Homo sapiens: one gene and its partner. The protein of the gene in region 1 interacts with the protein of each later gene in a biochemical or structural test. Each region holds a gene or a part of one and is shown on either strand. Other genes may lie near its edges.

Region 1 (5,416 bases):
AATTTCACAGAATGACCAAAAGAAGTATTCTCTTCTAGTCCCTTTCTATGGCTCCTGTCAGCCTATATGAAATGTGCATGCACATCTAGTATAGACTCTCCCTGTCCCTGCCCTTTGTTCTGAAGGGCTTATGATAAAAAGTGTTGTGCAACTCAAAGAAAGAGAAGTAATGGGATTTGTACATGTATATTACATAGTCAGCCCAGCTTGGACTCCTCCAATATGAGACTATGAGCTGATCATGTCCCATCCCTCAGCAGGGCACCTCCCTTTATTTGTCCCCATCCTCAATTCCTTTTTTTTTTTTTTTTTAATTTTAAAAATACAGATGGGGTCTCACTCTGTTGCTCAGGCTGGTCTCAAACTCCTGGCCTCAAGCAATCCTCCCGCCTCCCAAAGTGTTATTACGCCTGCCATTTTTTCTTTTTGTTTTTTTTTTTTTCGTTTGAGACAGATATCTCTCTCTCTCTCTCTCTCTCTCTCTCTCTCTCTCTCTCCCTCTGCCTCTCTCTCTCTCTCTCTTTTCCCCCCTCCCCCAGGGGGAGTGCAGCCTCAGTCTCCCAGGTTCAGGCAATCCTCCCACCTCATCCTCAGTTCCTAACTCCATCACTGTACCTTCTCCTTGTCACTAACTGGCTTTAGTCACAAGAAGCCACCAGCTCCCCTAACTCCTCCAGATTGTCTGTTAATCATAGTCACAGTAACTATGTCTGTCTCCCCATCAGAGTGCTCTTAAAGGCTGTTTTTGTCTGTCTCCCCTTTGAGATTTCTTCTTTTCCCTTCCCCTGCAAGCAAATCGGGACTTGTACCCAAGGATCCTGAGGAGTGGGATGATGTGGCTTTGGGGGCCTTGGCTGGAGGGCCAGCTGCCTGTTAGTCATTTCCTTGATGGTGGGCTGCCCCTTTCTCTGTTCTAGATTTTCATCGTGGAATTTGGGGGTAAACCCTTCAGTTGTACAAGCCTCAGCCTGTCTCAGTGGCTGTGGTGTCTCTTCATTGGGATTGGAGAACTTCTGTGGGGCCAGGTGAGTACCGGCACACCCTCCTGGTGCATTCTCACAGCCTGCAGAACTCCCCTCCTCTACATGAGATGGAACAAGCAACGGTGGAGACCCCCCAGCTCCTCATCTTCATCTTCTCCTCTTCCCTCCCCACCCCCACTCAAGTTTTCAAGTTCTTGCCATCTCATAGGATCTCAAGGTGGAATGATCACTTCAGAGGTTTCAGAATTCTTCTCTAACTAAGCCTGGAGGTAGAAAAATCCCTTAGCTTGGCTGGGCGCAGTGGCTCACACCTGTAATCCCAGCACTTTGGGAGGCCGAGGCAGGCAGATCACGAGGTCAGGAAATCAAGACCGTCCTGGCTAACATGGTGAAACCCCGTCTCTACTAAAAATACAAAAAATTAGCTGGGCATGGTGGCAGGTGCCTGTAGTCCCAGCTACTCGGGAGGCTGAGGCAGGAGAATGGCGTGAACCTGGGAGGTGGAGCTTGCAGTGAGCCGAGATTGCGCCACTGCACTCCAGCCTGGGCGACAGAGCAAGACTCAGTGTCAAAAAGAAAAAAAAAAGAAAAATCCCTTAGCTTCTCTGAGACAGAAACCAAACTTTTCAATGGAATTTTGCTACAAAAAAAAAATATATAATAAGGGTCTTAGAAGTAGAAGAGTTTACAAGACACATGTCTTTATTCTCATGAGGCAGCAACCTGGCTATGGGCTGTCGAGCTGACATAATTCAGGGTTTCCAGCCTCTTCTCTTTCTTGCCATGGCTTTATCTGGGTGGAATTCTTAACTCTTACCTGAGATAAATTCAGATTTACAAGATCTCTAGAGTAGCAGTATGGCCTGTGGTTCAGAGCATGGACTCTGGGAATGACTGCCTGGGTTTGAATCCAGCTCTCTGTTTTTTTTTTTTTTTTTTTTTTTTTCTGAGACAGAGTCTTGCTCTGTCACCCAGGCTGGAGTGCAGTTGTGTGATCTCGGCTCACTGCAAACTCTGCCTCCTGGGTTCAAGCAATTTCTCCTGCCTCAGCCTCCCAAGTAGCTGGGATTACAGGCAACCACCACCGCACCTGGCTAATTTTTGTATTTTTACTAGAGACGGAGTTTCACCTTGTTGGCTAGGCTGGTCTGGAACTCCTGACCTCGTGATCTGCCTGCCTTGGCCTCCCAAAGTGCTGGGATTACAGGTGTGAGCCACCGCACCTGGCCCAGCTCTTGTTGCCCAGGCTGGAGTGCAATGGTGCAATCTTGGCTCACTGCAACCTCCACCCTCCAGGTTCAAGCAATTCTCCTGCCTCAGCCTCCCAAGTAGCTGGGATTACAGGCACCCACCACCGCGCCCAGCTAATTTTTTGTATTTTTAGTAGAGACAGGGTTTCACCATGTTGGCTAGGCTGGTCTCAAACTCCTGATCTCAGGTGATCCACCCGCCATGGCCTCCGAAAGTGCTAGGATTACAGGCCTGAGCCACCGTGCCCAGCCTCAGCTCTCCTTTTTATAAGCTGAATCATCTTGGGCAAGTTACATAACCAATCTGTGTCTCAGTGTCTTCAGCTTAGGAAAACAAGGTCATTGTTAATTAGTGAATCAGTTACTATACAGTAATGAATAATGTCTTATTCCTTATAAATAATCAAATTTTAAACTATTACGATTATAATAGTATCATTAAGTCTAATAGTTTCACTTCTTCCTTAATACCACTTTACAAACCTCCCTCATCCTCAGCTCTGGCCTGGGCTATACCTCTCTTTACAGACCCCAGGTCTCTGCAGATAATCCCTTAGTGTCCAGCCACCCAGGTAATGGACACTTTGCCCTAACTGGCCTCAAAGAGCCATTTCTGGAGCTGCAGGCCTTCTCCCCTAAACCTGCTAGTTATTTATTTCATACCTAGATGCCTCCCTGAATAATTTCTTTTTCTTTTCTTTTCTTTTCTTTTTTTTTTTTTTTTTTTTTTAAGAGATGGGGGTCTCAGGCCAGGCGCAGTGGCTCACACCTATAATCCCAACACTTTGGGAGGCTGAGTCGAGCAGATCACCTGAGGTCAGGAGTTCGAGACCAGCCTGGCCAACATGGTGAAACCCTGTCTCTACTAAAAATACAAAAAAAAAAAAAAAAAATTGGCCGGGCATGGTGACACATGCCTGTAATCCCAGCTACTTGGGAGGCTGAAGCAGAATTGCTTGAACCCGGGAGGCGGAGTGCAATGAGCTGAGATCACGGCACTGCACTCCAGCCTGGATGACAAGAGTGAGACTCTATGTCGAAAAACAAAAAATAAAGAGATTGGGGTCTCACTATGTTGCCAGGCTGATCTCAAAGTCCTGGGCTCAAGCAATCCTCCTGCCTCGGCCTCCCGAAGTGCTGGGATTACAGGCATGAACCGCTGCACCCAGCCCTCCCTAATTAATGTCTGACCCAATTCCCTCCACCCTGTTCTGTTTGGTGAAGATTTCTTTTTTTTTTTTTTTACCAATGGGTTCCTAAAGCAGTTTTATGCTTTGGTAAAGCTTGGTTGTTAAACCTGTTGTTTGAAACTCTGTTCTGGCTCTTGCCTCACATGTGGCCATGTGGCCTTGCTGCCAGACAGCAGCCTTCCTTCTGTATCACAACAGCTTTTTCCACATTCAGAGGCAGAGCTCTGGCATTCTTCCCATTTCAAAACCCTTGACTCCATATCAGATTGCCCATACAGTCCCTCTTCCCCACATGAGCCCTGGCTACTCCTTATCTTGTCCGGAAAGAACTGACTGACAGGTGCTGAGCTCACCGGGAAATTTATTTCAAATTTCAAACCCTATGTACTGCTCCTTGTCTTCTGATAATACTCATGTGACCCCTCTTCTATGGACTGTCCCATCCACTTCCTCACCTCAAGCCCAAGAAAACTTTTGGTATCCTTTCACAAGAGTTTGTAACACAGAAACTACTTTGCATGTGGCAACTAAGAAAGGGGTCATTCATTTCCAATACCCTTCTCAACCCCTTGCCTATACATAGGCAATATCACCATCTTCTCCCCAAACTCTTTTCCCCCAGGTCCTGGTCTCTGTTTCTTCCTACTGCGTACCATGCTGTATAGTTCTGTTAACCTTAAAAGACAGATTGCAAAATGGAACAGAAGAAATGAGACAGAAAGAGGAAAATGAAGTATATGACCAGGCAGATGGCTGGTCAATTACTAGAATAGAAGCTCTCTTTTGTGTGTGTCCATAAATACAGAAAACCTTCCTAAAAGCCTGACCGCTGGTGGGCACTTGGAGAATGCTTGCCTGGATGGATTGGTGCTTCTGCCCACTGCTCTTCCAGTGGGAAGGGTGGTAGGGCAAAGAGTAACCTGCCCAAGGGCCTGGCTCATGTAAGTTGACTGACAGCTCTTCTCACGCTGATTCTGACGTCTTCCTCTTCGCTGCGCTTGTTTTCAGTTCATCTCCGCAATACCTACCCGATCCCTGAAGTTCCTGAAGGAGGCTGGGCATGGCACCACCAAAGAGGAGATCACCAAGGATGCCGAGGGACTGGATGAGATTGACCATGCTGAGATGGAGCTGCGCCGAGGCCAGATCCTCTGGTTCCGGGGCCTGAACCGTATCCAGACTCAGGTACTCTGATAGTGGTCTGTCCTTCCCTTGGGAGAAGCAGCTTCCCATCTTGGAAGGTGTTGGGAGGGTAGCAGTTCTTGTCGGCCAGCATCTCTTCCCTTCCAAAGGCTCACTACTGATGGGCAGCCCTAGATCCTCAGCTTCAGGACAGACACGCAAAAGGATCTGTGTGGGGTCCTCTGAGAGGAGAGGAGTCAAATGACCTAGACCATGGGACACTATTAGCATAGTCCTTTAGCTCTGGGTTGACCCTAAAGCCCAGCCTGCCACCCTCTATCAAATGGGCAAGCTTCAGCATAAGGTCTCTTGCAAGCACTAGACCTGACCCCAGGGTGGGAAATGCTCAGTTTTTCCCTACCCTTCAGAAGGAAGGAGTTAGACAATATCAATATGCCAACATACCCAGCATTCACTTAATATAGCTTCCTCACACTGCCATTATAGGAATAGATGCTATCTGGAAGGGTCTTTGTAAAAGAAACTCACCTTGTTATATCTCCCCCATTCAAAGTGTAAGGCCATGGTGGGGAATCTGATGGTTTCATGTGTAAAAATGACAATAGTCTCTTGATGTCTGAGCATCTTTTGCAGGATTCAGACTTGCTTCCTGACAAGGAGGAAGCAATAATTTCTTCAAGCCTCTTCCCTTCTTGCAATTTCTGAAATGGGATAGAAGCCACCCCTGCTGCTCTTATGTCCCCTGTCTATAGCCCCACAATAACTTTTATTTTTTCCACTTTCCATGCATCAATTGTAACTACTTTCTCCTGGGTGAATGCGCTGATCTAAGCATTGATAATTCTGTCTT
Region 2 (5,416 bases), on another chromosome or scaffold:
TAGATCTATGTAAGAGCACAATTTGAATATGATCCAGCCAAGGATGACCTCATCCCCTGTAAAGAAGCTGGCATTCGATTCAGAGTTGGTGACATCATCCAGATTATTAGTAAGGATGATCATAATTGGTGGCAGGGTAAACTGGAAAACTCCAAAAATGGAACTGCAGGTCTCATTCCTTCTCCTGAACTTCAGGAATGGTATGTTTTTATGCGTGTTTTGCTTTGCTTGGTTATAAAAACAAAGCCCTGACCATCCATTTTCCAATTTTATATTATTTTAGAGTGTAAAACCTGTTTGATATATTCCTTCCTTTACGAGCCAAACAAAATTTAAATTAGTCATCCAAGAATTCTATATCTTCAGTATCTAGTGAGATCCTAGTTGCAGAGTCAGGGCTTCATTTTACACAAAAAGAAAGGAAGGTCTGGAAAGAGATTGGATGAGCAGCCCTGAGCCAAGTCATGGTCTCACAGCAGAGCCCTCCACTCCTATATGCTGTTATAATTGTTTTAGAATGGCATTAAAAAAATGTACGTTCTCCTTGCCCTTCTACATGCTTTCATGCCCATCCCATTCCCACCACCAGCAAAAAATGTAGGTGCAGTGCTTCAGTGTCACTCAGAGTATTTGAAGATAAAATGTATTTCACTGTTAGAAGGAGGTAGTCAGAAGCTTTGTTCTTTACCTTGCCAGTCCTTTAAAAATACCTTTTCTGCTAGAAAGTTTAAGCCCTAAAAGCAGGCTAAAGTTAGGGGTTTTAGGCACTGTTTTTAACTGAGAGAAAAGGAGTCACAGATCACTGTATATTTTGATAAAATCTATTTCTGCTATTATTGTTACCGTTTCCTTAGTTGAACTGTCTTTTGGAAAATATTGATGGTTTTACCTTTGTTGGTACTTGGGCAATATACCAGATTATTTCTAGCACAAAAGAGATAATGTCTGAGTTTTGTTTCATGTGGCAAAAAATAACAGCCATTAAGCATCCTGCCAGTTCCTCCTAAAATACTTGAACCCAGCTAAAAGAGACCAAAGACATTGAGTCCATAGAAATTTCTACCTGCTTTTATCTATTTTTCTCACTAGTTAAGAGATTTCTCAGTTAATCTCTTTTGCTTGATCGCCTCTTTCAGCTATCCCATGTTTCCCCAAAAAATAGTATTAAATTTAGAATGTTGGAGCTGATGAGGACTTCAGATGCCATCATTTTATACATAAGGAAACGTGGGCCCAAATGGAGAAGCAGCAGCCTTCCATCTGGCATTGTCTTTCAGTCTGATCTTCGAGAAACAGTTCAAGCATAAGCAGGAGGAAAGCAATCTTTAAGTCGTTGCCGTGATGATGCCATTATATTCTTACTGATATTTACATTTTACAGAATGTCTTCTTTAATGTTACCATATATTATGGGCATTTATTGAAAATAATTGTGTAGATTCCAGACCTCTTCTGCCTAGTCAGATCATCTATATAAATGTTTCACCAATTTCTAGAACTCTGAGTCCTCTGGAGGAATCCTGAGTGATGGCAGTGCAAAAAGCAGATTTGCTTCCTATTTCCTGTAATGGTGGATGAGATTATTTGGATAAATCCTCCTGATGAAAAAAAATGAAAAGTGCCGCAGAAAATATGTTTTTCAAATGACCTTGAAAGCACTGAATAGCTGAAAAGGTATCAGGGGCCAGGCATGGTGGCTCACACCTGTAATCCTAGCACTCTGGGACGCCGAGGTGGGCAGATCACTTGAGGTCAGGAGTTCGAAGCTAGCCTGACCAACATGGTAAAACCCTGTCTCTACTTGAAATAAAAAAAAAAAAAAAAATTAGCCAGGTGTGATGGCAGGCACCTATAATCCCAGCTACTTGGGAGGCTGAGGCAGGAGAATTGCTTGAGCCCGAGAAGTGGAAGTTGCAGTGAGCCGTGATCGCGCCACTGCACTCTAGCCTGGACGACAGAGTGAGACTCTGTGTCCGGGAAATAAAAAAAGGTACTGGGGAGCTCAGTGACCAATTTTTTTTTTTTTTTTTTTTTTTTTTGAGACGGAGTCTCGCCCTGTGGCCCAGGCTGCAGTGCAATGGCATGATCTCAGGTCACTGCAACCTCTACCTCCTGGGTTCAAACAATTCTCCTGCCTCAGCCTCCTGAGTAGCTGGGATTACAGGCACCCGCCACCACATATTTTTAGTAGAGACAGGGTTTCACCATGTTGGCCAGGCTGGTCGTGAACTCCTGACCTCGTGATCCACCCACTTTGGCCTCCCAAAGTGCTGGGATTACAGGTGTGAGCCACCACACCAGGCCTCAGTGACCAATTTTTATGTGAAAGCCTTTAATAAGAATGATAAGTGGAATATCAGAGTTACCAAGTGGCCCATTTTGCAAACAGGGCATTTGTCATTACTGAACACTTCTGTGCCAGAGAACCAAGGTTAAGATCTAAGGCCAGTACAAGTTGGGGAATCTGTTAGAAGACCCTCCTCATTGTTAGGAGTGCAAGAGGCAGTCCCCCCAGGCTAAAAGGAAACAGATAAGCATACCCTTATTTCCCTTCAACACCGGAGGACTATAGAGAAAGCTGCCTTGTCACTGAGCAAAGCAAAAGATGAGGAAATTGGGAACAAACTTCCAAATTGTGGCCACCAGTCCACCTTGAATGGATTTGCACCCAGGTACACACAGCCTGGGGCAGCCAGGGGAGCTGAAGCCATGTACTTGATTTGAAGTTTCCCCTTTCTTTACTAATAGTTTCAGATGTATGGTATAAACAGAAAGTCTCTGAAGGCAAACACTTTTATCCTAACCCCCACTAACTTCATCCTATCCGCCCGACATAAACTTTTTCCAGGGCAGTAGCCAGCAAGTCAAAATTATCAGGCACACAAGGAAACAAGTAAGACCCAACAGAAATGACAGATAGTAGAAACAAACCCAAACCTACTGCATATATTGGAATTAAGAGACAAAGATTTTAAAAATAAGCTTACGAAGTTGGTTCGTTTGTTTTTGAGACAAGGTATTGTGCTCTCGCCCAGGCTGGAGTGCAATGGCATGATCATGGCTCACTGCAGCCTCGACCTCCTGGACCCAAGCAATCCACCCACCTCAGCCTTCCCAGTAGCTGGGACAACAGGCGTGCACCACCACACCCAGCTAATTTTTTTCTTTTTCTTTTTTTTTTTTTTGTAGAGATGAGGTCTCACTATGTTGCCCAGGCTGATCTCCAACTCCTAGGCTCAAGTGATCCTTCCACCTTAGCCTCCCAAAGTGCTGGGATTACAAGTGTGAGCTACCACGCCTAGCCCAGGTTTTTAAAAATCAATAATAAGCTTGTAAAATATCTTCAGAGAGCAGAAAAAAAATGTTAATGACATAGCAGATTTTAAAAAGAACCAGAGGAACATCCAGGGGGAAACATGCAGTAACAAAATTAGAATCTCAGTGGTCACACCTATTAGAATGGCTAACATTTTTTTGAAGTTTCATCAGTGGGTAAATAGATCAATAAATTGTGATATAGCCATACAATGGAATGCCACTCAGCAATAAAAAGGATCAAACTATTGATATATGCAGCAGTATGGATGAAACACAAGATCATTATGCTGAGTGAAAGAAGCCAGGCAAAAAAGAGAACACGCTATATGATTCCATTTACATAAACTTCTGGAAAATGCAAGATGGGGGTGGAGGGAGGGAGGAATTACAGAGGGGCATGAGGAAATTCTGGAGGTAATGAATATGTTTTTCTTTTTTTGGAGACGGAGTCTCGCCCTGTCACCCAGGCTGGAGTGCAGTGGCGCAATCTCAGCTCACTGCAACCTCTGCCTCCCCGGTTCAAGTGATCCTCCTGCCTCAGCCTCCCGAGTAGCTGGGATTACAGGCGCCTGCCACCACGCCTGGCTAATTTTTTGTGTTTTTAGTAGAGACAGGGTTTCACCAGGTTGGCCAGGCTGGTCTCAAGCTCCTGACCTCAAGTGATCTGCCTGCCTCAGCCTCCCAAAGTGCTAGGATTACAGGTGTGAGCCACCGCAGCACCCAGCCATTTTTATTTTTTATTTTTTATTTTTATTCTTCTAAAGTCAAGGTCCCTCTCTGTCTCCCAGGCTGGAGTGCCGTGGTGCAATCTTGGCTCCTTGCAGCCTGGAACTCCTGGATTCAAGCAATCCCCCTATCTCAGCCTCCCAAGTAGCTGGGATTACAGGCGCCCGCCACCACGCCCAACTAATTTTTAAATTTTCGATAGAGATGAGATCTCACTATGTTGGCCAGGCTGGTCTCGAACTCCTGACCTCAGGTGATCTGCCCGCCTCAACCTCCTAAAGTGTTGGGATTACCTGTGTGAGCTACCACACCTGGCTAAGAATATGTTTTTCTTGATTGTAGTGATAGTTTCATGGGATGTTTACAGATATCAAAACTGATAAATTTGTATACTTTAAATATGTTCAATATATTGCCAAAAAACTGAACTGTTAAAGTTGCAAAATATATAGAGGGAGAAAAGGATTCTAACTGAGATGATAAGAAAGAGGCCCACTGGGCAGTGTGTACCCCAAGACCTGAATAGGACTTTGGGGGTATAGGAAGCTATTCCTGGCAGAAGAGAAAGATCAATTTTCCTTTGCTTGGAAACTGAATTGGCCTCTGGGATGTCAGTGGGCATCCAATACTAACAAGAAAGATTTGAAACAATTGTATCAGCCAGACCCCCAAAACTTTGATCAAATATATTGCTACCAAGTCACATTCTTCACATTTTCTAGATGAGAAATCAGTTTTTTCGGACCCAAATGCCTTACTCTAGGCACATCAATTTAGCCCTTCAATATATTTTAGCTCCCGGACTCTGTCATCCCTCCCCTTGCCTTGCCTACAAGATCCTGATCTAAGCCATCAATAAATTGGTAGGCATGTGTTTGAAATTTCCTTCCAGGTTGACCTTAACCCTAACACGGTTTCTGTGCACTTACTGAGCTAAAAGAGCTAATGTTTATTTCTGCAGTGTCTGGTAAAAATCAATTTCATTCCTCTGTCATCACACCACATGAGACTATGCCACAATTTTTTCCTGGGAACCTGTATTTTTGTTTTAAGCTTAAGAACATTTATTATAAGATACTCTCTACATTGTAACATAAGCTTCACAAGGTCACACGATTTTGTCTCTTAACCTGTCAAAAAATTCCTCAATTCTGTTTGTTTCCAAAGATTCTATGCCTTTTAGTTCTGACTAATAGCACATATTGACTTGCACCAAAAGAATCCCCAAAGCAAGCCTTTATCAGCCTCCTCTGTATGCCACGTGGGTAATATATGGAGATGGACTTTGATACTATTACTGAGAGTTCGCAGTATTTTCCAATAAATGTCTTTCCCCCAACCAAAAATAAATACATAAAAACTTCAGTGAACA

Evidence for each region. The genes of interacting proteins can lie anywhere in the genome.
Region 2: the proteins of ATP2B4 (region 1) and CASK form a complex in vitro, tested with the Homo sapiens proteins (2 studies listed by BioGRID and IntAct, with this or other methods).

Annotation. Positions count from the first base shown.
Region 1 is NC_000001.11:203,722,964-203,728,379, forward strand, and holds part of ATP2B4 (plasma membrane calcium-transporting ATPase 4), read left to right. Parts: intron 1-917; coding exon 918-1,025; intron 1,026-4,431; coding exon 4,432-4,608; intron 4,609-5,416. UniProt on the Homo sapiens protein: Calcium/calmodulin-regulated and magnesium-dependent enzyme that catalyzes the hydrolysis of ATP coupled with the transport of calcium out of the cell. By regulating sperm cell calcium homeostasis, may play a role in sperm motility.
Region 2 is NC_000023.11:41,548,503-41,553,918, reverse strand, and holds part of CASK (peripheral plasma membrane protein CASK), read left to right. Parts: intron 1-3; coding exon 4-200; intron 201-5,416. UniProt on the Homo sapiens protein: Multidomain scaffolding Mg(2+)-independent protein kinase that catalyzes the phosphotransfer from ATP to proteins such as NRXN1, and plays a role in synaptic transmembrane protein anchoring and ion channel trafficking.